Linked DNA regions of Homo sapiens: region 2 is linked to region 1. Evidence: fine-mapped expression QTL. A gene starts in region 1. The other region holds a variant in brackets. All regions are shown on one strand. Distances are from middle to middle. Region 1 holds the start of TSPAN32 (tetraspanin 32). Region 2 has its middle 45 kb from the start of ASCL2.

The links. PIP is the estimated chance that this variant, and not a neighbour inherited with it, causes the effect.
Region 2: its variant is fine-mapped to the expression of TSPAN32 in whole blood (INTERVAL, PIP 0.99).

Annotation. Positions count from the first base shown.
Region 1 is chr11:2,298,645-2,306,720 of GRCh38, reverse strand. TSPAN32 (tetraspanin 32) reads right to left here and starts at 4,708. Exons shown (of 10, transcript NM_139022.3): 1 at 4,506-4,708; 2 at 3,763-3,877; 3 at 2,517-2,614. The coding sequence starts at 4,571. It overlaps C11orf21 (chromosome 11 open reading frame 21), which reads left to right and starts at 4,803. Exons shown (of 4, transcript NM_001329958.2): 1 at 4,803-4,965; 2 at 6,108-6,201; 3 at 7,014-7,293. The coding sequence starts at 4,913. The coding sequence ends at 7,265. RefSeq lists an enhancer at 137-804 and a silencer at 7,168-7,462.
Region 2 is chr11:2,217,354-2,234,081 of GRCh38, reverse strand. No RefSeq gene overlaps it. Among named protein-coding and RNA genes, the nearest start is that of ASCL2, 45 kb to the left of the region's middle. RefSeq lists an enhancer at 10,145-10,719. The variant T/C (reference allele first, on the strand shown) is at 8,376.

The DNA.
Region 1 (8,076 bases):
TGCTGGCTGAGGGCCACCATCCCCATCTGGAAGCTATCACTCAATGCTGCCTCCCAGGCTTGAGGCCCTGAGCCAGCTCAGGAGACCAGCATTTTCCAGAAACCATTTCATTCCTCAGGAGAAAGAGCATCCACGGCCTCTCTCTCTCTTTCTCTCTTTCTCTCTTTCTCTCTCTCCCCCCACCACCAACCTCCCGCGCAGAGAGGATCTTGGGTGGTGGATGGGCCCACCCAGACCTCCCCAGGGCCTTCACCATCAGAGGCTGCTGGGTGGTCAGGTCTGCCCTGGCCATTTTCTTTCTCCTCATTCTAAATGGAAATAAATAAATAGATACATAAGCGAATTGAATGTGCTTCCTTGGGCGGCGCTGCCAGCTCTGCTCTCTCAGCCCAGCAAGCTCTTTCATTTCCTGTGCGAGAGGCCAGCTAGGGGAGAGGCCGGAGGGGTGGGGGCAGGCAGGAAGGGGCTTTGTGGGGAGCATCCAGGCGCCCAGCCCATTGGAAAAAATCTTTCCACTCCCTGCTCCCCTTCCCTAGCCCCTTCACTTGTGCTCATGCGTGCAGACACACATACAGATGTGCCAGATGCAACACGCAGACACCACACCCGTATGGCAACAGGGGCAGGTGAAGACCGGTGACAGATACTTACACACACACACACACACACACACAGAGGCACCTGCACACGCACACACACATGCACACACACACTCATGCACATGCACACACACATGTATATTTGCACACGCATACACATAGGCTCACCCTCATGCACACACATGCATGCAGCTCAATGGAGCAGGTCTCTTGACTGGGGTCTCCCAGCTCCCTGCTGTGGCCATGCTGAGCTCACCATCCAGGCTGGGTCTAAGTGCATTGGGGCTTGGGAGCTGTGCTGGAGCCCACCCAGCTGGGACTGGAGTGTCCTCAGGACCCCAGCCCAGTGCAGGCATCCAGTTGGGGGCCTCCAAGGCTGCTCTACAGGCCTGACCCACATGTCAAGTCACCCTGGCCTTGGGGCTGGCTGGGGACACAGAACCTGAGCCCAGGTGCTCCCTGACCGCCTTGGCCACAGATGAGGGTGCTAGACTGGTTTGTGCACGGGGGCAAGGTGGGGTGGGAAAGGCTGGTGACTGGGACAGGAGCCCCGTGGCCCAGCGGCTGGCTTCTGCATATGTGGCCTCAAGCCCAGCACCATGGCACCCCCTGGTGGACGGTACTGCAGCCCCAGCGCTGGTTCTTTCTGGGCCTCCAGCTCTGACCTGGACCCCTTGGCCTGGCCCTGTTGCCAACCTTTTCTTCCATCCAGGTGTCCCTTTGCAGGCCACACACCCTCTGGGGGGGGGGGCAGACTACCTGCCTTGTCATCTCCCCACTGGGGCCTCCCACCTGGCCCTGAAGCCAGATAGCACAGGCCGGGGTTGTCCCTGCCCATGCTCGTGTGCCCCGGAGCAGGAATCCTGGCTAGTGCTGGAGCTGCTGGGTCCTCCTCTGCCCACCATGGGCCCACCCAGGGCTGGTTGGCCCGGCAGCAGCTCCAGGAGGTGACTCTATTCCTATTCTTGGAGACATTTATAAACCAGGGTCATTAAACAAGCATTTGCTGAACTTGAAGGCTGAGCTGAAAACCCTGCCAGCCCTGGGGACCCAGGAGGCTCTGCCCTCAGGGACCCCCAGAGTGGTCCAGCTTCACAGGCTAAACAGGGAAGCAAAGCCCCCAGCACAAGCTCCTCATGGCTGGAAAGGGGAGACGGGAGGCTAGAGGGACAGGTGGGAGCCCGGGGCGCCAGGGAGGAGCTGCCCCAGCTGGGGTGAGAGAAGAGGGCTGTGGGCCTAGCAGGGGCAGGACAGGCGTGGGGAGGCTGCCGCCAGGTGGGGTCTGCGATGACCATCGAGTGGCAGGGACCAAGACAGAAGCCCATGGGGAGGAGTAGGAATGAGGGTGACAAGAGGCCACTGCTATGGGGTGGGGTGGAGGGGCCTATGGGACCTCGGGGCTGGGGAGACACCTCCGGCAGCTGGGAAGGAGAGTGTGCAGCTCCGGAGAGCCCAGGCTGGAGAGCTCAAGGGGCGTTTCCTGAGCCTGGCCCGGCCTCCTCCGAACAGGAAATGGGATGCTCCCAGTGCCCTCCCAGAGCTTGCTGGGCAATAGAACCAGACCCTCCCAGGGACTTTGGAAACAGCTCCCAGGGTCAGGAGGGCCGTCTCTCTCTTTCAGAGCTCCTATAGGAACCCTTGTTGGGCGTGTAGATGACAGGGTGAGGTAGGGCCTGGTGGAGGGGCCTTGGCTACCCAGGTAGGGGGTCTCGGCTGGCTAGCATCCCTGGGGCCTCTGTTTCTGCCTAGATACTCAGGTGTGGGGTTGACGTGGGGGTCTCGGCTGGCCAGCATCCCTGGGGCCTCTGGTTCTGCCTGGTCACTCAGGTGTGGGGGTGGCACACAGCCCTGCCAGCTCTTCACTCCTTTCTAATTCTTTTCTGGGGGCCTGGGCATCTGGGAACACAATGAACTCACCCCTGCCATGAGGCCCTGGGCCTCCCTCACGGTGGCTGCAGCGCTCAGCACGGCTCCCAGAGTCAGGAGGCCCACCAGGCTCAACCCCGCAGAGAAGGCTGGTTGGGAGGAGAGAGGAGGAGGGTTAGGGGTGCCCAGGACAGGTCCTGAGTGCACACAGCCTGGGTGTGAAATCTAACTTGGGAGTCAGGGGCCGTGAGGGACTCCTGGGGGGCTCTGAATGGGCCTGTCTCTCCATCAGACGGCCCTGAGGGAAGGAGGAGGGAGGTGGGACTCGTTCAGCCTGGGGGACTGCCCCTCCTTCCCTCTTTTCCTCCCTGCCCTCCATGCCTGTGGGGCTATCTTGGAAGCCACATGCTCCCTGCCATGCCCTAGTGACAAGTGGCCGGACTGGAGCTGTAATCTTATCAGTCTGGACCTGGACCTGGGCCCCAGGCATCCTCCTGCCATGTCCTAGTGACAAGTGGCCGGACTGGAGCTGTAATCTTATCAGTCCGGACCTGGACCTGGGCCCCAGGCGTCCTCCTCCAGGGAGGCCCTGGTCCTAGGACTTGGGGAAAAGCATTGGGTTCTAAGGCAGTATCCCTGACCTCCTGGGCCTCAGTTTCCCTACATCTGCCCACCGGGCTGCAGCCTTCCTGGGCCCCCTGAGCTCCTGCCTGAGAGTCCCCTGCAGATCTGGCTCTGACATCCCCTCATTAAAGGGGCCTTCCTCAGCCTTACCCCTGAGTGGCCCCAGCAGGCTCTGGCCCTCGCTCCCGCTCTCTGGATGTTGGATAAGTCGCTGCTGAGTCCCTGCAGGGAGGCGTCTGGCTAGAGCAGCCCCCACCCCCTCCCCACCCACATCCCAGGTCCTGAGTGGAACATCAGCCATGTGGAGCCCTCATGGACCTGCTGTGCCCAGCCCCAGGCCAGTCCCAGGCCTGCCTGGGACTGAGCCCTGACTGCACAGAGCCAGGTCCTGACCGCACAGAGCCACTTCCTGACCCTGCCCGACATATACCCACACTGTGCCCACGCTCCTGTGGGGCACGAGAACCAGGCAGGAACACTGGCTGTCACCCAGACCCGAGGCCCTGCCCAGGGGAGCTAGGACTCCAGGGCAGCCCCTCCCTGCCCCTGACCACCTCTGGCTCCTGCCTAGGGCCTGGCACCATTCTGGCTGTGAGGCGTCCAGCTGGGCTCGTGCCAGCCACCCTTGCACCCGAGGCCCCTCCCGATGCAGCCAGGCCTGGACCTCACTTACCCCATTGGTGCACAGCCTGGTACGGGTTCTTCTCCAGGGACGCTCGGCGGATGACAGCAAAGTGGGCCCCGAAGTAGGTAAGAGTCACCATGGTGGCCACAGAGAGGCCCAGCAGCTGTGGATAGGGCAGACTCAGAGTGTGGGGCATGGGACTGCTGCAGGAGCAGGGAGCTCGGCCCCAGCGGGCAGGGTTGGGGCTCTCTCCAGCTTCCCGGTCCCGTGAGAGACAGGCTCAGCTGCAGGGATTCCCGGTGTTTCCGTGGAGTGGTCTCAGGAGGCCTTCACTGCAGACGCCCCAGCACACTCACAGGCACCCCCACATGGTAGACGCATACACGCACAGCCCAGCTTCCCCAGACACCCAGGACCTCTGATCATTGTGTCTACGGAGTGGGAGTGAGCCCCACCCCTGTGCCAGCACCCTCCGGGGCAGGAAGGGGAGAAGATCCCTGGAGCCCGGCAGCCAGTGCCCCTCCACCCCAGCTCGCCCCAGGCCTCAGCCCCACTCAGGCCTCCTCCAGGCTCTGTGCTGCCCCTCAGGAGGAGAGACGGGGTTGCTCATGGTGGTCCCTGCCTGCCTGCGGCTGTCTGCAAGGGCAGGACACATGTCTGCAAGGGCAGGACAGGGACAGTAGGGCTGGTGTGTGTGTCAGGGGAGGGATAATCCCTGTGCTGAGGCCCTGCCACCCCTCACCCCTGCTCACCCCCACCCACCACCCACTCCTGCCCGACCTGCCTGTTACCAAGATAAAGAAGCAGGTGACCAGCATCTGGCATTTGGCAACCCTGACTCGACTCCAAGGCCCCATGACGGTTCCTCTCCTCTCCTCTCCTCCCCTCCCTTCCCCTCCCTGTGGTTTCCAGCTGGGCAGGGGCCTCAGACCGCAGCTCACTGCCCAGGAGGTAGGCTGCATCCGCCCCTCTGTCTGTCTGTCAACATCGCCCTAGGACCGAGCTGCTGGGTGCCCCGGAAGAAGGGCAGGCAGGAAGGGGAGGGGCAGTGAGGTTGGCTCCCCCCACCACCTCACCCTGGTGCCCCCAGCCCAGCCCAAGACACCAGGGCATTTGCTGACATCTGAGGCCCTTCCCAGGAAGACATGGCCTCGTTCTTGGTGTGGCCACTGAGGACGGCGCTGAGAGGGGGAAAGTCATGGGCAGGACCTGGTGTGGGATGTGGAGGAGACGGCGCCCGGGGAGGAGGAGGTGAGCTCCCCGTCCTGGGAGTGAGCAAGTGTGGACTGGGCCTTGGGGGCGTAATCCTTGGAGGAATTTGGATGGGGTCTCCTTGGAACATCATTATTGAGGTGTTCTTAGGAAACACCCTTTGAAATGTCCTGTGACAGCTTAAGTTTTGAGAAGGTCGTTGGTTTTAATGCCTTCGTGGGCGGCACTCATGGATATTTTGTCGCAGAGCCTTCTTGGGGCCACAGGGGTGGGCTGGGGCCTCGCTCACACTCACGTGGGGCCTCCAGGGGGAGGCTTTGTAAACCTCGAATTTGCAATTACACCGAGCCGTGTAATTACGTATGGGTGGGGGCAGCGCTGCGGCCCCAGTACAGGCAGGGTTTCCGTGGGCCTCTGGGGCAGGGTGGGCCTGAAGAGGGTGAAAATGTTCCAGGTGAATCCATCATTCAGGGACCACTCCGGGCCCTCCCAGGAGTGCTAACAGGCGGCTCTGCTCGCCCCTCGGTGCTGGAATTGCTCCTCCTGCATTTGGTCAGGACCTCATCAAGGGGGAGGGGGCCCCAAGACCTGCAGGCATGGCAACCCCAGCGTGGCTGTGGGAAGAGGGCCCAGCTGCCGCCCGCTCAGGAACGCTGCTGGAGGAACTGCTGAGGCCACCGCCTCCCTCCCTCTGCGGAGGGAGAACCAGGAGAACCAGGAGGGACAACCAGGACCCCCGTCCAGCCCAGCACCCCCAGGCAGCACCCTCTGCAGCTCTGGCCCCCAGGAATTCCCACCCTGAGTCTGTGGGGGCTTGTGGAGACCTCAGATGCCTGGCACCCACAGTGTCACTTCAGCTGGGGGCCTAGGTGTGGCTCAGACTGGGGCGCAGGTATGAATGTAGGGGTGGCAACAAGAGTGAAGGTACCAGGTCTAGGGGCAGGAGGCCCCCGGGCTGTGCAAGTGGGCAGCCCGTCCTCTCCAGGGAAGATGAGCTGCTCTTGGCTATGTCTGGTTCGCCCCTAGAATTGTCTCTCTCCAACCTTGACCTCCCTGGAGCTGGTGAGGCGGGCCTGGAGCACCACCCGCTTCTGGGACACCTCTTCATCAGGTCTGAAGAATTTCGGAGCAGGGCGGGCCTGGGTTCTTGACCTGTCCTGATGGCCTCCTTCTCACACCAGCGCTGTGCCCAGGTGGCCTCACTTGTCATCTCAAAGTGGCGTCGAACCCCCTGACAGGTGGACGGGAACCCCCGGCTGGCCCTCCAGAGACCAGGTCTGACCACAGCCCCCCTCACTGTGCCCCACCAGCGGGGGCAGGGAGCCGGTGGAACCCCCACGCCCTTTGCTGAGCCACACCCTCCCACCCCAACATTCCCTCTGCAAGAGGAAGTGGCTTGTTGAGGGGAAGCCACTGTGCAGGCTGCTGCCCACCCCACACCCTCCTGCCCACCCCGCACACCCCTGCCCACCCCGCACACCGCTGCCCACCCCACACATCCCTGCCCACCCCACACACCCCTACCCAACCTTACACACCCCTGCCCACCCCACACACCCCTGCCCACCCTCACACACCCCTGCCCACCCCACACGCCCCTGCCCAACCTCACACACCCCTGCCCACCCCACATGCCCCTGCCCACCCCACACACCCCTGCCCACCCCACACACCCCTGCCCACCCTCACAAACCCCTGCCCACCCCACACACCCCTGCCCACCTGCTCTAGAGGTGGTGCCGGCCGCTGGGAGCCTGGAAGACCCCTCGAGCAGCGGGTTCAGCCCCAAGGAGCTGGCCCAGGAGGACAGCTGCCCCCACCCCTACCCCACCAAGGAGCCTGTCCTAAGGGCTGGGCCCCACTGCAAGCTGGCCTAAGGGCCCCTGGCTTTATTTCCAGGGAAGAGATTGGGCGTGGATGCATGTGCAGGCATGGATGCGTGTGCAGGCGTGGATGCGTGTGCAGACGTGGATGTGTGTGCATGCATATGTGTTTACCCGCCAGGGACTTCCTTTTTCCTCTCTCCTTCCTGTGAATTCCTGGGTCCCAGGTGCGCCCGCTCACTCTACAATGTCCTTACCCACCAGGAGGCCCCTGGCTCAATGATGCCACCTGCAGCTGCCCAACCCTCCGCCCATGGTGCCCTTGTTCCACCTGCCACCGCTCATGAACCTGTGGATCACCCAGCTCTGCACTGGCTTGCCTGCTGCTGCTGTCTCAGTTTACCTGGGCAGTTGCCCCTGGCTATCCGGCTGGGATGGGACTTGGACTTAGAAGCAGGCCCCTCCTCTGGAAAGCTGTGTCCTCGGGCCAGGAGGTGGCAGCCTCTACCTTCCTGAGACAGGGACCCTTTTCTGTCCATCAGAGGTGAGCAGCCGGGCTCTGAGGCTGGAGCCTGGGGGCCCCTGTGCTGTCTGTGAGCGCGGCCCCTCCCACCGGGGAGGCACTCAAGAGCTTCCCACCTGCGTCACAGCGAGTGGGGCCTGGAGCTTGAAGAGACCTGTGGGGGCCACGCGGGCACCTGAATCTGGCTCATGTCTGTCCTTTGCCCTGATTCTGAAATCCACGTCCCAGGAGCTGCCTTTGCAGCCTCTCCTGAGCCCAGGGAGGAGGAGGGCAGCTCCCCTTCTGGATTACCCTAGGCCTGGGTCAGCTGGGTGGGCCCCAGGGGACCTTTGAACCCCTACTGCCTGGGCAGCCCCCTTCCCCTGGAGGCACCCTGGCCTGTCCCTTGAGAGCCAAGACCATACTCAAACTGGGTTCTGGGCTCTGGGCACTGCTCTGCTCCCAACCAAGGGAGTTTCTGGGGCATGGCTGCCCGGGCCTTCCCTCTCAGTGCCGTGGGCTGCTGCCTCCGCTGGCCAACTCCAGTGGGCACTGAGGGGCACCCTGCTTCCCCCCCCAAGGAGCCTAGGCTCTGCCCTCAGTGAGGGCAGAGGGGACCCAGGGATGGCTGCCCCTTCATAGACACAGCTGTCTCCCAGGGGAGTCTAAAGGGACCCCACACCTGCGTCACAGATACCAGGGACAGACTGTAGGGGAGGCGTCTCTATCCACATCCACGCTGTGCCACCCACTAGTATGTGGGGCCGGGCACCACCAAGCCTGCTGTCCTGCCTGGGCCACCCCAGCCTGGGCTGAGACTCGGCA
Region 2 (16,728 bases), 77 kb after region 1:
TATCATATACAGAGCCTCTAAGTTCCTTGCCTCTTAAAAGTGGCTGCTCACTTTGGGAGGCCGAGGTGGGAGGATCGCTTGAGCTCAGGAGTTCGAGACCAGCCTTGGCAAGATAGTGAGACCTCATCTCTACAAAAAATAAAATAAAATAAAATAAAATAATAAAATAAAATAAAATAAAATATAAAATAAAATAAAATATAAAATAAAATAAAATAAAATAAAATAAAATAAAATAAAATAAAATAAAATAAGAAAGGATCACTTGAGCCCAGGAGGTTGAGGCTACAGTGAGCTGTGATTGTGCCACTGTACTCCCACCTGGGTGACAGAGAGAGCCCCTGCCACAATAAAAAATAAATAAATAAGGAAAAAAAATTAAAAAGTGGTTGCTTAGGAGTACTTAATGCATGTATTTTGCGTATCTTTATAAACAATTTATGGAATGACTATCGGTACTCTTGGTACTATTGGAAGTAGAGTCCTTAGCATTTTTAAGTCTAATCAGACTAAAGACCCAATTCCAGAAACTCTAAAACCAATTTAGGGAACTCACTCTTAAAATTCTGTCCCCACTAGAACCATTCCTGGTACGTAGTATGAGTTACCCAGAGAGACAAAACCAGTAGGATGCAGATAGATACAGATATAGATGTAGATATCAAAATTGATAGAGCTATATGAGACAGGATTTATTATGGGAATTGGCTCATGCAATTATGGAGGCTGAGAAGTCCCACAATGTGTTTCCTGCAAGACGGAAAACCAGGGAAGCCAAGAGCATGGCTCAGTCCAAGTGTGCAGGACTCAGGACCAGGAAAGCTGGTGGTGTAACTCAGTCTGCAGATGATGGCCTGAGAACCCGGGGGACACTGGTGCAAGTCCTGGAGTCCAAGGGCTGAAGAACCAGGGGTTCCAATGTCCAAGGGCAGTGGAAGATGGGTGTCTCAGCTCCAGGAAAGATAGGTAGGTAGATAAATAGAGAGAGACTGAGCAAGTAGACCATTGACCTTTCTGCTCTATCTGGGCCCTCAGACAATTAGATAGTGCCCACCCACATCAGGTGAAGATAGATCTTCCTTATTCAGTCCACGGATTCAAACGCCAATCTCTTCTGGAAATGCCCTCACAGGGACACCCATAGATAATGCTTTACCAGTTATCTGGGTATCCCTTCAAGTTGACAACCAAAATTAACCTTTACAAGGTGTTATATATATTTTGTTAAATTTATTCTTAAGAATTATGTTTTTGGGGGTTCTATTGTAAATGGTATCTTTTTTTTTTTATCATTTCAGACTTCAGTTGCTCATTGCTAGTATATAGGAAAGTGATAGACTTTGGTGTATTAATGTGTATCCTGGGTCCTTGCCATAGTTGCTTTTTAGTTCCAGGAGTATTTTGTTGATTTCTTAGAGATTCTCTAGATGTAAAATCATGGCATCTGCAAATATAAACAGTTTTATTTCTCTCTTTCCAATCTATATACCTTTTATTTCACTCTCTTGTCTTATTGAAATAGCCAGGACTTTGAGTCCTGGTGAATCAGGAAGTGTGATGCCTCCACTTCGGTCCACTTGCTCAACATTGCTTTAGCTATTTGGGGTCTTTCATGGTTCTGTAAAAATTTTAGCATTGCTTTTTCTGTTTCTGTGCAAAATGCCACTGCAATTTTGATAGAGTTCGCATTGACTTTTAGATCACTTTGGGTAGTGTGGAAATTTTGACAACATTAATTCCTCTGATCTGTGAACACAGGACATCCTTCCATTTGTTTGTTTTCATCAATTTCTTTCATCCAAGTTTTAGTTTTCAGTGTACATATCTTTCACTTCCTTGATTAAATTTATTCCTCAGTATTTTATCCTTTTTGATGCTATTGTAAGTAAATTGTTTTCTTAATTTCTTTTTTGGATAGTTCATTGTTAGTACATCAATATGCAACCAATTTTTGTATATTGATTTTGTGTCCTAAAAATTTACTAAATTGATTAGTTCTAACTTTTTTTCATGGAGTCATTAGGGTTTTCTATGTATGTAATCATGTCATTGGCAAACAGAGATAATTTTACTTCTTCTTTTCTGATTTGGATGCTTTCTTTTTTTTGCTTTTTTTTCTTACCTAATTTCTCTGGCTAGGACTTCCAGTATTATGTATAACAGAACTGGCAAAAGTGGACATCCTTTTTGTTGTTCCTGATCTTAGGGAGAAAGCTTTTCACTTTTTATTTTTGAGTATGTTGTTAGAGGTGAGATGTCATATATGACCTTTATTGTGTTGAGGTACATTCCTTCTATACCAAATTTATTGATACTTTTTTATCATGAAATGGTATTGAATTTTGACAAATGATTTTTCTGTATCTATTGAGATAATCATATAATTTTTATGTTTTATTCTGTTAATGTGATGTATCACTTTTTTGAGTTGCTTATGTTGAACTATCTTTGCGTCTGAGGGATAAATCCCATTTGATCTTGGCGTGTCACTCTTCTAATATGCTTTTGAATTTGGTTTGCTGCTAGTATTCTGTTGAGGATTTTTGCATTTATGTTTATCAGGGATATTGGTTTGTATTCTTTTCTTGTAGTGTCCTTGTCTTTCACATCAGAGTAATACTTGTTTTATAATATGAATTTGGAAGTATTCCAAAAATTTAGTTTTTTGGAAGAGTTTGAGAACAGTTGTTATTAGTTCTTCTCAAAACGTTTGGTAGAATTTACTAGTGAAGCCGTGAGGTCCTGGGCTTTTCTTTGATATGTGATTTTGATTAGTTATTCAATCTCCTTACTTGGTCTGTTCAGATTTTCTATTTTTTTATGATGCATTCTTAGTTAATTTTATGCTTATAGGAATATATCTGTTTCTTCTAGATTATCCAGTTTGTTAACATATAATTGCTCATAGTGGTCTATTATGATCCTTTGTATTTCTGTAGTATCAGTTGAATGTCTCCTTTTTCATTTTTATTTATTTTAGCTTATCTCTTTTTTTCTTCATCTAGCTAAATGTTTATCAATTTTGGTTATCTTTTCAAAAAACAACTCTTAATTTCATTAATCTTTTCCACCTCTGCTTGTTGTTATTTTCTTCCTTCTGCTAACTTTCAGCTTAGCTTGCTCTTCTTTTTCTAGTTCTTTGAGGTATAAAGTTAAGCTGCTTATTTGAGATCTTTCCTTTTTCTTCATGCAGGCGTTTATCACTATAAAGTTCTCTCTTAGAACTGCTTTTGTGGTATCACATACATTTTGGTATGTTGTGTTTCCATTTTCATTTGTCTGAGATATTTTTGGTGTCCCTTTTGATTTCTTCTTTGACCCATTGGTTGTTCAGGTGTGTGTTGTTTAATTTACATATATTTGTGGATTTTTCTGTTTTTTTCTGTTATTGATTTCTAGTTTGATACCAAACTAGAAATTGGAAATGGTTGGAAAAGACGCTTGATATAATTTCAGTCATTTTAAATTTGGTAAAACTTGTTTTGTGGCCTAACATATGATCTATCCTAGAGAATATTCTGTGAATACTTGAGAAGAATGTATATTCTGCTGCTGTTGAATGGAATGTTCTGTGTATGTCTGTTAGGTCCATTGGTCTAAAGTGTAGTTCAAGTCCAGTGCTTGTTTCCATATTGATTTTTCTGTCTGGGTGATCTATCCATTGTTGAAAGTGGGGTGTTGAGGTCTTCTATTATTATCATTGCATTGCTGTCTATTTCTCCCTTTAGTTAGTTATATATTTAGGTGCTTCAATGTTGGGTGCATATATGTTGAATATTGTTATATTCTCTTGGTAAATTGATCACTTTATCATTATGTAATAATCTTTTTCTCTTGTTAGTTTTTGATATAAAGTCTATTTTGTCTGATATAAGTACAGCTACCCCTGCTCTCTTTTGGTTTCCATTTGTATGAACTATCATTTTTCTTCCCATCACTTTCAGTCTATGTGTATCCTCAAAGTTGAAGTGAATCTCATGTAGGCAGCATATACTTGGGTCATGCTTTTTAAATGCATTCAGCCATTGTGTTTTGTTTTTTAATTTAAAAGATGAGATCTCACTATGTTTCCCAAACTGGACTTGAACTCTTGGGCTCAGTAATCCTCCTGCCTTAGCCTCCTCAGTAGCTGGGACTACAGGAGTGCACCACACTTTGGCTATTCTGTGTCTTTTGATTGTAGAATTTGATCCATTTACATTTAAAGTAATTATTAATAGGTAAAGACTTACTATTGCTGTTTTGTTCATTGTTTTCTGGATATTTTATACACCCTTTGTCGCTTTCTTCCTTTCTTATTGTCTTTCTTCGTGATCTGATGATTTTCTGTAATTGTATGTTTTGATTTTGTGTACCTACTATAGGTTTTTGATTTGTGGTTACCAGGAGAATTGCATTAAACATCATATAACAGTCTATTTTAAGCTGATAATAGCTTAAGTCCCATACAAAAACTACTTCACTCCTCTTCCTTCCCCACATTATATGTTTATGATGAAGTCTGCAGATAAATTAGTAGGGTCTATGGCCTTTCTCACCTTCTCTCAGTTTCTTGCAACCACTTAGCTGTGCCGACCACCTCAGTGTTCTCAGTGGGGTGAGAAACAGTGGGCCTCTTGGGCAGTTTGCCATATGGCTGGGGGAGCCTGGTGCTCACTCACTTTCCTCTGTGGAAAGGTCATGGACCTAATAGATTTATTTTGGCATTGAGCTATGCTGCCTTGAAAAAGGGGTGATGTGGATAAAGTCAAACGGTTCTTTTACCCTCTTCAATGCATTTATTATTAGATTTTTTGCTATAACTGTGCTAGAACTTCTCCACTGGACTCCTGGACTTCCACAAAGATACTGTCATCTATAGGTAGTTGAAACATCAATGCTTTTGTGGAGGGATGATGGTGGAAATCTCCTATTCTGCCATCTTACTGACTTCACTCTTTTTAACTCCAGCTGTTGGTCATAAGATACTTTGGACAAGATCACTAAAATCTTGTCACAGAAACTGGATATACCTATGGTGGCTGCAGCCACTTCTTACATACTTGGAGAGCTAATGTCTTCCCCCTTCAGAAAAGTGGAGTAGAGGAGAAGAGGAGTAGTAGAGGAGTAGTGGAGAAGAGGAAGACAGGGAAGGGGAAGAAGAGAAAGAGCAGAAAGAAGCCAAAGAGAGAAAAATGTTAAATAAATTTTCTGCTTCATTTGATATGGTTATATATTGTTTTCTTTAGTCTGTTGATGTGTGGATTACAGAGATTGCTTTTTGAATGCTGAACCCATCTTGCATATCTAGAATAAATCCCATTTGGATTGTACTTCATAATTCTTTTTATTTATTATTCGATTCACTTTGCTAATTTTAAGAAGGTCTTTGCATTTATATTCATGAGAGATATTGGTCTATAGTTTTCCTTTCCCATAATATCTTTACCTGAGTTTTGTTATTACAGTAATGCTGTCGTCATAGAATGAGTTAGAAAGTGTGTCTGTCACCTTGATTTTTTGGAAGAGATTTTTTGGTGGAGAATTTGGTATGACTTCTTCCTTAAATTTTTAATAGAATTCACTGCTAAAACCATTTGGGCCTGGTAATTTCTTTTTAGGAAGGCTACTATTATTAATTCAATTAATTCAATTTCTTTAATAGATACAGGGATATCCAGGTTATTTATTTCACCTTGTGTAAGTTTTGGTAATTTGTGTCTTTCCAGAAATTGGTCTATTTCATCCATGTGAAATGTGTGGGTATAGAGTTAATTATAGAATTTCTTTATTATGCTTTCACAGTCCATGGGATTAACAGTGATGATACTTTTTCATTTCTGATATTGATTATTTGTGTCTTTTCTTTTTTTCTTGCCTAACCTAGCTAGAGGTTTATGAATTTTATTAATATTTTCAAAGCACCAGCTGTTATTTCTGTTGATTTTTTTCTGTTTTGAATTTCATTCATTTATCCTCTAATTTTTATTAAATTTTTCTTCTGCTTGTTTTAGGCCTAAGGTGGGAGCTTAGGTTACTGATTGCCTTTCTAATTATAGTCAGTTAATGCTATATTCAGCATTGCTTTTGCTGAGTCCTACAAATTTTGATATACTGTATTTTCATTTTCATTTAGTTAAAAATATTTTTTAAATTTCTCTTGAGACTTCTTTTCAGCTTGGATTATTTAGAGGTGTATTGCTTGATTTCTAAATATTTGAGGATTTTCCTGCCAGCTTTTTGTTTTTTATTTCTAGTTTAATTCCACTATGGTCTGGGAACACTTTATATAATTTCTATTATTTTCAATTAAAGTATGTTTTATTCTAGAATGTGGTCTATCACGATGAATGTTCCACATGAGCTAGAGATTAATGTGTATTATTCTGTTGTTGGATGAGGTAGTCTAAAATGTGAATTAGATCAAGTTGGGCTATAACTGCTGTTCAGGTCAACTTTATCCTTGTCTATTTTCTGTCTTCTTGACCTATCAGTTACTGGCCGTAGGGTCTTGAAGTCTCCAGCTGTAACAGTAAATTTGTCTATTTCTCCTTGCAGGTCTATCAGCTTTTGCTGCATGTGTATTGGTGCTCTGTTGTTAGGTACATACACATTAAGGATTGTTGTATCTTCTTGGAAGTCTGGTTCCTTTATCATTATATAGTGACTTTTTAATATAATTTCAATTTTATTTTGGATTTAGGGGTTGCCTGTGCAGGTTTGTTACATGGGTATGTTGCATGAACCTGAGGTTCAAATGGTCTCATCACCTATGTAGCGAGCATAATATCCAATAGGTAGTTTTTAAGGCCTTGCCCCCTTCCTTCTCTCCTTTCTTGGGTAGTCCTCAGTGTCTGTTGTTCCCATCTTTATGTCCATGTGTATCCAATGCGTAGCTCCCACTTATAAGTGAGAACATGCAGTATTTGGTTTTCTGTTAATTCACTTAGGATAATGGCCTCCAGCTGCATCCATGCTGCAAAGGACATGATTTTGTTCTTTTTTATGGCTGTGTAGTATTCCATAGTGTATATGTACCGCATTTTCTTTATCTAATCTACCCTTGATGGGCACTTAGGTTGATTCCATGTCTTTGCTATTGTGAATCATGCTACAGTGAACATATGAATGCGTGTGACTTTTTGGTAGAATGATTAGTTTTTCTTTGGGTATATAACCAGTAATGGGACTGTTGCCTGGGATGGTAGTTCTGTTTTAAGTTATTTAAGAAATCTTCAAACTGCTTTCCACAGTGGCTGAACTAATTTACATTTTGATCAACAGTATATAAGTGTTCCTTTTCTTTGCAGCCTTGCCGTTATCTGTTATTTTTTGACTTTTTAATAATAGCCATTCTGACTGATGTGAGATGGTATCTTATTATGGTTTTGATTTACATTTCTCTGGTAATTAGTGATGGTGAGCATTTTTTCATGTTTCTTGGCCATTTGTATGTCTTCTTTTGAGATGTATTTGTTATTGAATTTTGCCCATTTTTTTTTTTTTTTGAGACGGAGTCTTACTCTGTTGCCCAGGCTGGACTGCAGTGGTGCAATCTCCGCTCACGGCAAGCTCCGCCTCCCGGGTTCATGCCATTCTCCTGCCTCAGCCTCCTGAGTAGCTGGGACTACAGGCGCCTGCCACCATGCCCGGCTAATTTTTTGTATTTTTAGTAGAGATGGGGTTTCACCGTGTTAGCCAGGATGGTCTCGATCTGCTGACCTCGTGATCTGCCCACCTCGGCCTCCCAAATCCTCATGCTAGGATTACAGGCATGAGCCACCGCGCCCAGCCAATTTTGCCCATTTTTTAATGGGGTTATTTGTTTTTCACTCATCAAATTGTTTAAGTTCCTTATAGATTCTGGACATTAGACTTTTGTCAGATACATAGTTTGAGAATATCTCCCCCATTCTGTAGGTTTTCTGTTTATTCTGTTGATAAACAGATAAACAGTGATTACCTTAGCATTTACAATATACATTTTAAATTTACCTAAGTCCATCTCCAAATAACACCATTTCACTTCATTAGTAGCACAGATAAGTCCTGTGTTAGTCCATTTGGCATTGCTATAAAGGAATGCCTGAAACTGGGTAATTGATAAAGTAAAGAGGTTTAATAGTTCTGCAGGCTGTATAAGAAGCATGATGTCATCATCTGCTTCTGGTGAGGCCTCAGGAAGGTTTTACCCTTGGCAGAAGGCAAAGAGGGAGCAGGCATGTCACATGGCAAGAGAGGAAGCAAGAGAGGTGCCAGACCCTTTTAAATAAACAGCTTTCACATAAACTTACTGCTGCAGAGAGGGCACCAAGCCATTGATGAGGGATCCACTCCCATGACCAAAACACCTATCACTGGGCCCAACTTCCAACATTGAGGATCACATTTCAACA[T/C]GAAATTTGGAGGGAACAAATACCAAACTATATAAAGTCCCGATTCCTCCTCCCATCCCTTATAATGCTTGTCATTTATTTTACTTACCCATATGCTGTAATAACCCAATGCATTCTTACTAATATTATTTGAAACAAATAGTTATCATTACATTGATTTAGAATAAGAAAAGATCTTACTTTTACCTTCATTTATTCCTTCTCTGATGCTCCTTTTCTCTTTATGCAGATTCAAGTTTCTGACCTATAATTTTCCTCTGTCTAAAAAAGAATCTTAACATTTCATTCGGGTGTGGTGGCTCACACCTGTAATCCCAGCATTTCTTGTAGGGCAGATCTGGTGATAAATTCCTTCCATTTTTGTTTGTCTGCAAAAGTCTTTACTTTCTCTTCACCCAGCCTATCACTGTATATAGGCTGGGTGCAATGGCTAACACCCATAATCCCAGCACTTTGGGAGGCAGAGGCAGGAGGATCACTTCATCCCCAGAGTTCAAGACTAGCCAGGGCAACATAGTGAGACCTCATCTCTACAGAAATAAAAAATAAAAACATTGTCAGGTGTGGTGCAGCACATCTATAGTCCTAGCTACTTGGGAGGCTGAAGCAGGAGGATTTCAAAGTCCAGGAGGTCAAGGCTGCAGTGAGCTATGATCACACCACTGCACTCCAGCCTGGGCAACAGAGTGAGACTGATGCTGAAAAAAAATTTTTTTTAATGATAGCCTAAGAGCTGTGAGAATTAATGTGAATTGCAGGACACATGTATCATCAACACTTTGAACATACTTGTGGCCCTTGTTCCTCTCAGGGCTTTAAAAATCATTTTTATATAATTTAAAAATTATATGTAAATATATATGCACACATACACACACATATACACATGTGTATATATACATATATGTGCATATACATACATGTATGTATATACACACACACACATATATATAAAACTGGATATAGAATTCTAGGTTGGTAGTATATGTCTTTCAACACTTTAATTATTTCATCTGATTGTCTTCTTGCTTGCAGTTTTCGGACAAGAGGTCATTGTAATTCTTATCCATATTTCTCTCTAGGTAATGCGGTATTTTTCCTTTTGTGTCTTTCAAGAATTCTTGTTGTCTTAGGTCTTCTCAGATTAAATATAATATGTCTATGTGTAGTTGAGGGTTTTTTAATGTTTAAAAAATTCTGCTTGGTGTTCTCTGAGCTTCCTGGATCTGTGGTTTGATGTCTATCATTAATTTTGCCAAGTTCTAAGCCATTATAACTGCAAACATCTCTTCTGCTCCATTCCTTTTTTCTTCTCTTTCTGGTATTCCAACTACAAGTATGTTACATTTTTTAAATTTCCCTCAGTTTTTGGTTGCTCTGTTCTGGTTTTGTTTTGTTTTTTTCAATTCCTCTTTTTTCCTTTGCATTTCAGTTTGGAAAGTGTCTGTTGATCTGTCTTCAAGCTCCTCAATTCTTTCCTTAGACTTGCTTAGCCTATTGATAATCCCATTGAAGGCGGTCCCTGTTTCTGCTAAAATGTTTTTTATTTCTAGCATTTCCTTTTGATTCTTTCCCAGGATTATCATATCTCCGCTCGATTACCCATCTTTTCTTAGCATTTTGTCGATTTTTTTCATTAGAGCTCTTAGCATGTTAATCATAGTTATATTAAATTATCTATGTGATAATTCTGACATCTGTGTCATATCTCAGTCTGGTTCTGTCACTTGTTTTGTCTTTTGAAGCTGTGCCTTTTCTTATCCTTTGGTGTGCCTTGTAAATTTTTTGTTTATCAGGTAATAGAAACTGAGGTAAAGAGCCCTCTACTGTGAGGGTTTATGTTATTCTGACAGGGAGTCAGGTATGAGGGGGAGAATAGTGTTCTATATTCTCCCAATTAAATGCCTTACAGTGAGCCTGTGCCTCGGGCTGAAACCTTCACAAGTATTTCCCAGTGTCATAGCTTTTGCAACTTGGGAGTGACAGGAGAGCTAGAAGGGGCTGGAGTTGGGGAAATGCCCTTCACCCAGGTGGGATAAGGCTCTGGAAACATCTTTCCCCAGAAGAGTAGTACTTTGTTATGGAAATTGCTCCACAATTACTCTTCACCCCTGCCCCCTACCTGCCTCCTACCAGGCTCTTCTGCGCTCTTCACAGTGAGAAACTGGTTCCTGGAGGTAAAGTCCATGAAAGCGTGGAGCCCCCAAGACTGCACACCCCCAGGATCTCTTACTCTCAGGGTAGCCTGTCTCAGCAGTTGATCAGAACTACCATTTAAACATCTGTGTCTGTTTGTGTCTCCCGTGGCTTCTACTCCAGTAAGCCAGTCTTGGCCACAACTCTCTGGACTTCCCCATTTCCCTGATTTCAGGAGAGTGATTTGCTCTACAATCTCAAGTCTCTGATGGGTCTGAGAAAGTTAGTGATTTTCAGGTTGTTCTGCTTTTTCCGGTGGAAGGATGGGAGCTCTTTACATGTTGAGGGTGAAAATAAAAATCCATTCTTTTTTCAGAATGTTTTTGTCCCTCCCTATTCTTTCCTTCAGGCCCTCTAATTACTTGTATACTAGGCCACCTGAAATTGTCCCATAGCTCAATGATACTCTTATCATTTTAAAACAATTCTTGTTTTTTCATTTCATTTGGAATATTTTCTATTGGTATATCTTTAAGTAATCTCATCCAGTGTATTTTTTATCTCAGACATTGCTGTGTTCATACTGACAGCTCAATTTGGTTCATTCTTACATTTTTCACATCTCTCCACATCTCTGTTTAGCTCTTTGTACATAGGGAATGCAGTTACAATAACTGTTTTAATGTCCTTGCCTGCCAATTCTAACATTCATGTCTGTTCTGGGTTTGTTACAATGGGTTGATTTTTCTCCCCATTATGGGTGTATTTTCTTGCTTCCTTGCAGATCCCACAATTTTTTATTGGTTGCAGATGTTGTGAATTTTGCCGTGTTGGATACTGGATACGTCTGCATTCCTATGAACACGGCTGAGCTTTGTTCTGGGATGCAGTTAAGATACTTTGGAACAACTTGTTCCTTTCATATCTTGCTTTTATGGCTTGTCAGGCAGGCCTGGGACATTACTCCATCCAGGGCTAATTATTCCCCACTGCTGGGGCAAGACCCTTTTATTGGTACACTACCCAATGCCCTGTGAATCATGACATTTTCCAGTCTGGCTGGTGGGAACTGGTTCTTCTCCCAGTTCTGCATAGGTACTGGGTCTTGCAGCCCCGAACCCTTTCAGTTGGTCCTTCCAGGCTTGGGTCATTCCCTCCCAGGCCTGTGATGAATGTATCCTGCTGAATATTTTAGGGGGAACCTTCTGGAGATCTCCAGGGTTCACTCTTTGTACCACTCTCTTCTCTGCCCTGCAAACTCTAGCCACCTTGGTCTCCCCAAACCCCCAATTCTGTTACCTCAACTTGGATTCATTGGGCTCTGCCTCAATTTTCCTCCCTGTATTGCAGTCCAAAAACTCTCTCAGGGCAGCAAGACAAGGCAATTGTAGGGCTCACTTTGTTTTTCTTCTCTTGGGGATCACTGTCCTTCTTTGCCCAATATCCTTTCTTGAAAACCAGTGTTTCTTTTTTTTTTTCTTCTTCAATCTTTTTGCTTATTATTTCAGCTGAGAGGGGAAACCCAGTTCCTGTTACTTCGTCTTTGCCAGAAGTGGGTGAAAAGCCTTGGAGAGTGTCATCAGTTTTGACTTATTTTCTGGCTTTGGAGTAAAGGCAGGTTCAGGGACTTCTACTTGTTCTTTCCTGCCATAATAGGTCTTACCACAAAGGTCAAGGAGCTGATGAAGGAGTCTGCCTGCTTATGGGTCCATGTTGATTATTTGTGTAGGAACTGGGGGCGTAATCTTCAAATGGGTTCATGAACATAGCCCACCCCATGAGATAGACCTGGGCCAGATTTCCACTTATTATCTAACTCCCCTATGCTGCTTCTTTAATGGGGGGCCCATGATGGCACTTGGGTCCCCTAGTACCAGTGTTATGAGTGTTATGCAGACTCCATATGCAACAGCCCTGCAAAGATAGTTGTGTCCCTCAGTTATCAGCTGTGATGATCTGATTCAGTGGCTGTAGGTCCCTTGGGGAAAGGACTGAGGACATACCACAGGTTGCATTTGGTATGCTGTTTCAGGGTCCTGCCTCATGGGGACCCAGCTTCTCTTTCCATTGGTGAGTCTGGGTCTGAGAACTGGCTGAGGTCTGGAAATGGTCAAGGGGTCAGGATTGCATTTGAGAGAATGATCTCAGCCTCAGGCATCCAGTCTTGATCCCTTGTTTCTATATTAAAGGGTCACCTGGTTGGTTGCCCACCTGTCCCCTCTAGGAGCATCATGCTCTATTATCCTTCTCAAAGACCCCTGTGGGTAAGGCCAACTGGTGCCATTTCCTCTTTGCTGCCCGAATTCACTTTCTGTGGCTGCCATAACTAAGTACCATAGACTGGGGGACTTAATAACCAGAAGTTTATCCTCCTCAGTCCTGAAGGCTGGAATCCAAGATCAAGGTGTCACAGGGCTGGTTCCTCCTGAGGCTTCTCCCCTTGGCTGGCAGATGGCTGCCTTCTAGCTGTGTCCTCACAGGGTCCTCCCCCTGTGTGTGTCTGGGTTCTAATCTCCTCTTCTCACAAGTATATCAGTCAGGTTGGATTAAAGCTGCTAGAATTTGGATGTTTGTCCACTCCAAACCTCATGTGGAAATTTGATCCAATGTTGAAAGTGGAGGCCTAATGGGAGGTGTTTGGGTCATGGGAGTAGATCCCTCATGAACAGGTTAATGCCCTCCCTGGTAGAGCGGGGCAAATGAGGTCTCACTTTATTAGTTCCCTCAAGAGCAGGTTGTTAAAAAGAGGCTAGCACCTCCCTCCCATCTCTCTGGCTTGCTCTCTTGCCATACGGTCTCTGCACACACTGGCTCCCCCTCACCTCCACCATGAGTGGAAGCAGCCTGAGGCCCTCACCAGCAGCAGATGCAGGCCCCGTGCTTCCTGTACAGCCTGCAGAACCATGAACCAAATAAACCTCTTTTCTTTATAAATTACCCAGTCTCAGGTGTGCTTTTATAGTAACACAAGTGGACTGAGAAAATTGGTACTGAGAGTGGGGTGTTGCTATAAAGATACCTGAAAATGTGGAAGTGGCTTTGGAACTGAGTAATGGGCAGAGGTTGAATGAGTTTGGAGGGCTCAGAAGAAGACAAGAAGATGAGGGAAAGTTTTAAACTTCTTGGAGACTAGTTAAGTGGTTGTGACTAAAATGCTGATAGACATGCAGGCAATAGAGGCCATGCTGATGAGGTCTCTGATAGAAATGAGGAACTTACTGGGGACTGGAGCGAAGATCACCCTTGTTAACCCCTAGCAAAGGTTGCAACTGCATTGTGTCCGTGCTTTAAGGCTTTGTAGAAGGCTAACCTTAAGAGTGATGACCCAGAATGTTTAGTGGAAGAAATTTCTAAGCAGCAGAGTGTTCCAGAAGTACCATGGCTACTTTTAACAACTTACAATCACTACAACAGCAAAGGAATGATCTAAAGGTAGAATTTCTAATAAAAAGGGAAGTAGAGCATACAAATTTAGACAATTTTCAGCCTGGCCTGTGGTAGAGAAGCAAAGAATGTTTTCAGGAGAGGAATTCAAGGTCCTTTGTGACACCGGTTGCTAGAGGGGTTGGCATGACTGAAAGAGGGTATAATGCTAACAGTCAAAACAATGGGGAAAGGGCCCTGAAGGTATTTTGAAGGACTTTGAGGCCACCCTGCCCATCACAGGCCCAGAGGCCTAGCAGAACAGAGTGGCTTGGAGGGTCAGGTCCAGGGTGCCACTGCTGTGGACCACCTTGGGATGCTGCTTCCCACATCCCAGCCACCCCAGATCCAGCCATGGTCCCAATGGCCTCAGATACCGCTTGGACAGCTGCCCTGCAGAGCACGAGGCATGGGACTTGCTGGCTTCCATGTATTGTTAAGTCTGCAGGAATCCAGAATGCAAAAGTGCTGGAGGTTTGGCCACTTCCATTTAGATTTCAAAGGGTGTATTGGAAAGCCTGGGTGCCCAGGCAGAACCCTGCTGCAGGGATAGAGCCCTTCGGAGATATTCTTCTACTGGAGCTGTGGGAATGGGGCTGCCAGGGGGACCCCAGAATTACAGAGACACCAGCAGTGTGCAATCGCAGCCTGGAAAAGCCCCAGGCATTGGACTCCAACCTGTGAGAGTAGCCACGTGGGCTGGGCTCAGCAAAGCCATGGGGGCAGGGCTGTCCAGAGTCCTGGGAGCCCACCCTTCCTTCCAGCGTGGGATGTGGGACATGGAGTCAAAAGAGATTTGGGAGCTTTAAGATTTAATGTCTGTTCTGCTGGGTTTCAAGCTTGTGTGGGACCTGTCCTGCCTTTCTTTTGGTCAATTTCTTCCTTTTGGAATGGGAATGTTTACCCAATGTCTGTCCCACCATTGTACCTTGGAAGTAAATGACTTGATTTTGATTTTACAGGCTCATACCTGAAAGAAACTTGCCTTGAGTCTTAGATGAGACTTTGCACTTTGGACTTTTAAATGGATGCAGGAAGAAGCTAAAACTTTAGGGGACTCCTGAGATGGGATGATTGTATTTTGCATGTGAGAAGGACATAAATTTGGGGGGACTGGGGAGGAATGCTATAGTTTGGATGTTTGTCCCCCAACCTCATGTTGAAATTTGATGCCCAGTGTTGGAGGTGGGGGCCTGATGTGAGCCGTTGGGGTCATGAGGATGGATTCCTCATGAGTGGATTAATGCCCTCCCTGGAGGAGGGTGAGAACTAAGTTCTTACTTTGAGTTCCCATGAGCACTGATTGTTAAGAAGAGCCCAGCACCTTCCCTCTCTCTTGGTTCCTCTCTCACCATGTGGTCTCTGCACACCGGCTCTCACCCTCCCGCCATGAGTGGATGCAGGCTGAGGCCCCCCCCAGCAGCAGATGCAGGTGCCATGCTTCCTGTACAGCCTGCAGAACCATGAGCCAAATAAATCTCATTTCTTTATCAATTACCCAGTCTCAGGTATTCCTTTATAGCAACACAAACAGAGTAAGACAAAAGCCCACACCCATGACCTCGTTAGGACTCTCACACTGGATCTTGGATTGTGAATTTATAGATCTGAACTTGGGGTTTTCTTCCTTCAGGACCTTCATGGCTCTCAGCAAAAGCTGCCCGTTCCACAGCTCTTTGCTTAAGGTTTCCCCATAGTTCTCAAGTGCTGGGGACATGGCACCAGGTGGTCTGTGATCCCACAGTGTTCTGCTCTAGCCTGCCAGGGGCTCTATCCACTCCTCCCCTGCTCACCCCCATGAGGGGCTCCTCCTTGCCCTGGTCAGTGAGAGAGCTGATCACAGAGCCCACACCTGGGCTCAGCTTCCCAGTGCCATGCCTGGCACCAACTGTCTCAGGCCTGTTCCCCTGAAGAAGAATCTGCAGTGGGGTTTCTCATGCATGGGATTTGTTGGGGGAGGGGTGCCCTCCCAGGAAGAGAAGAGGCTGAGAACACAGGCAAGCAAGAGGGGGTCTCGGCAGCAGACAGCCTCAGGGAGCTCTGGGGCATAAATTGTACTATAGTAGGCTGGGCTTTGAGGTAAGGGGACTGGGTTTCATATTCCTGGGTGGTCACTCCTAGCGTGGGCTGCCCCTGGGCTGGGGCATAGCCTCCTGTTTGCCTGAGAACGAGTCACTGAGGAGGGGCAGCTGTGAGTACTTGCAGCCAACCTCTGTGGCTGGGAATGGTTGCAGAGCCAGTGTAGGAGTCAGGTGGAGCCGAGGGTGTAAGGGCCAGGCGGAGCAGAGGCTGGTATAGGGACCCAGTGGGCACAGGGCATGAGGACCCAGTGAGGCGCTGGCAGCATGCTGCAGGCTGGACAGCTCCAGGCACCTTTCTCATTACCACGTGTCCTCCTCGCACCGGGCATTGTGAAGCTTCCAAGGCTGGGTCCACAGGGCGTTGGAACAGGGGGAGCCCACAGAGAGCCTGCCAGGCATGGGGGCTGTCCTGGGAAGCTGCTCTGGCCCCAAGAGGTGCCTTGGGAAGGCTTGGCCTGGCCACAGTCCTGCAGCACCCCCTGGGCATGGGACGGGGGTGCCCAGCTCAGCCAGGCTCAGAGGTCCTGGCCCCCTACAGCAGGCAGCGGGCAGCATCCACACCTGTAGGTCTCCTTGTCCCAGCAGGTGGGACTCCAGGCACACTCGCTGCAGCAGCGGTGTCTGTCTGAGCCTGCCGGCCTGGGTGGGCACCGCTGAGGACGTTTTTTGGGCGTTGGTGCCAGGGTGTCGGTGCTGGGCGTTGGTAGTGGTGT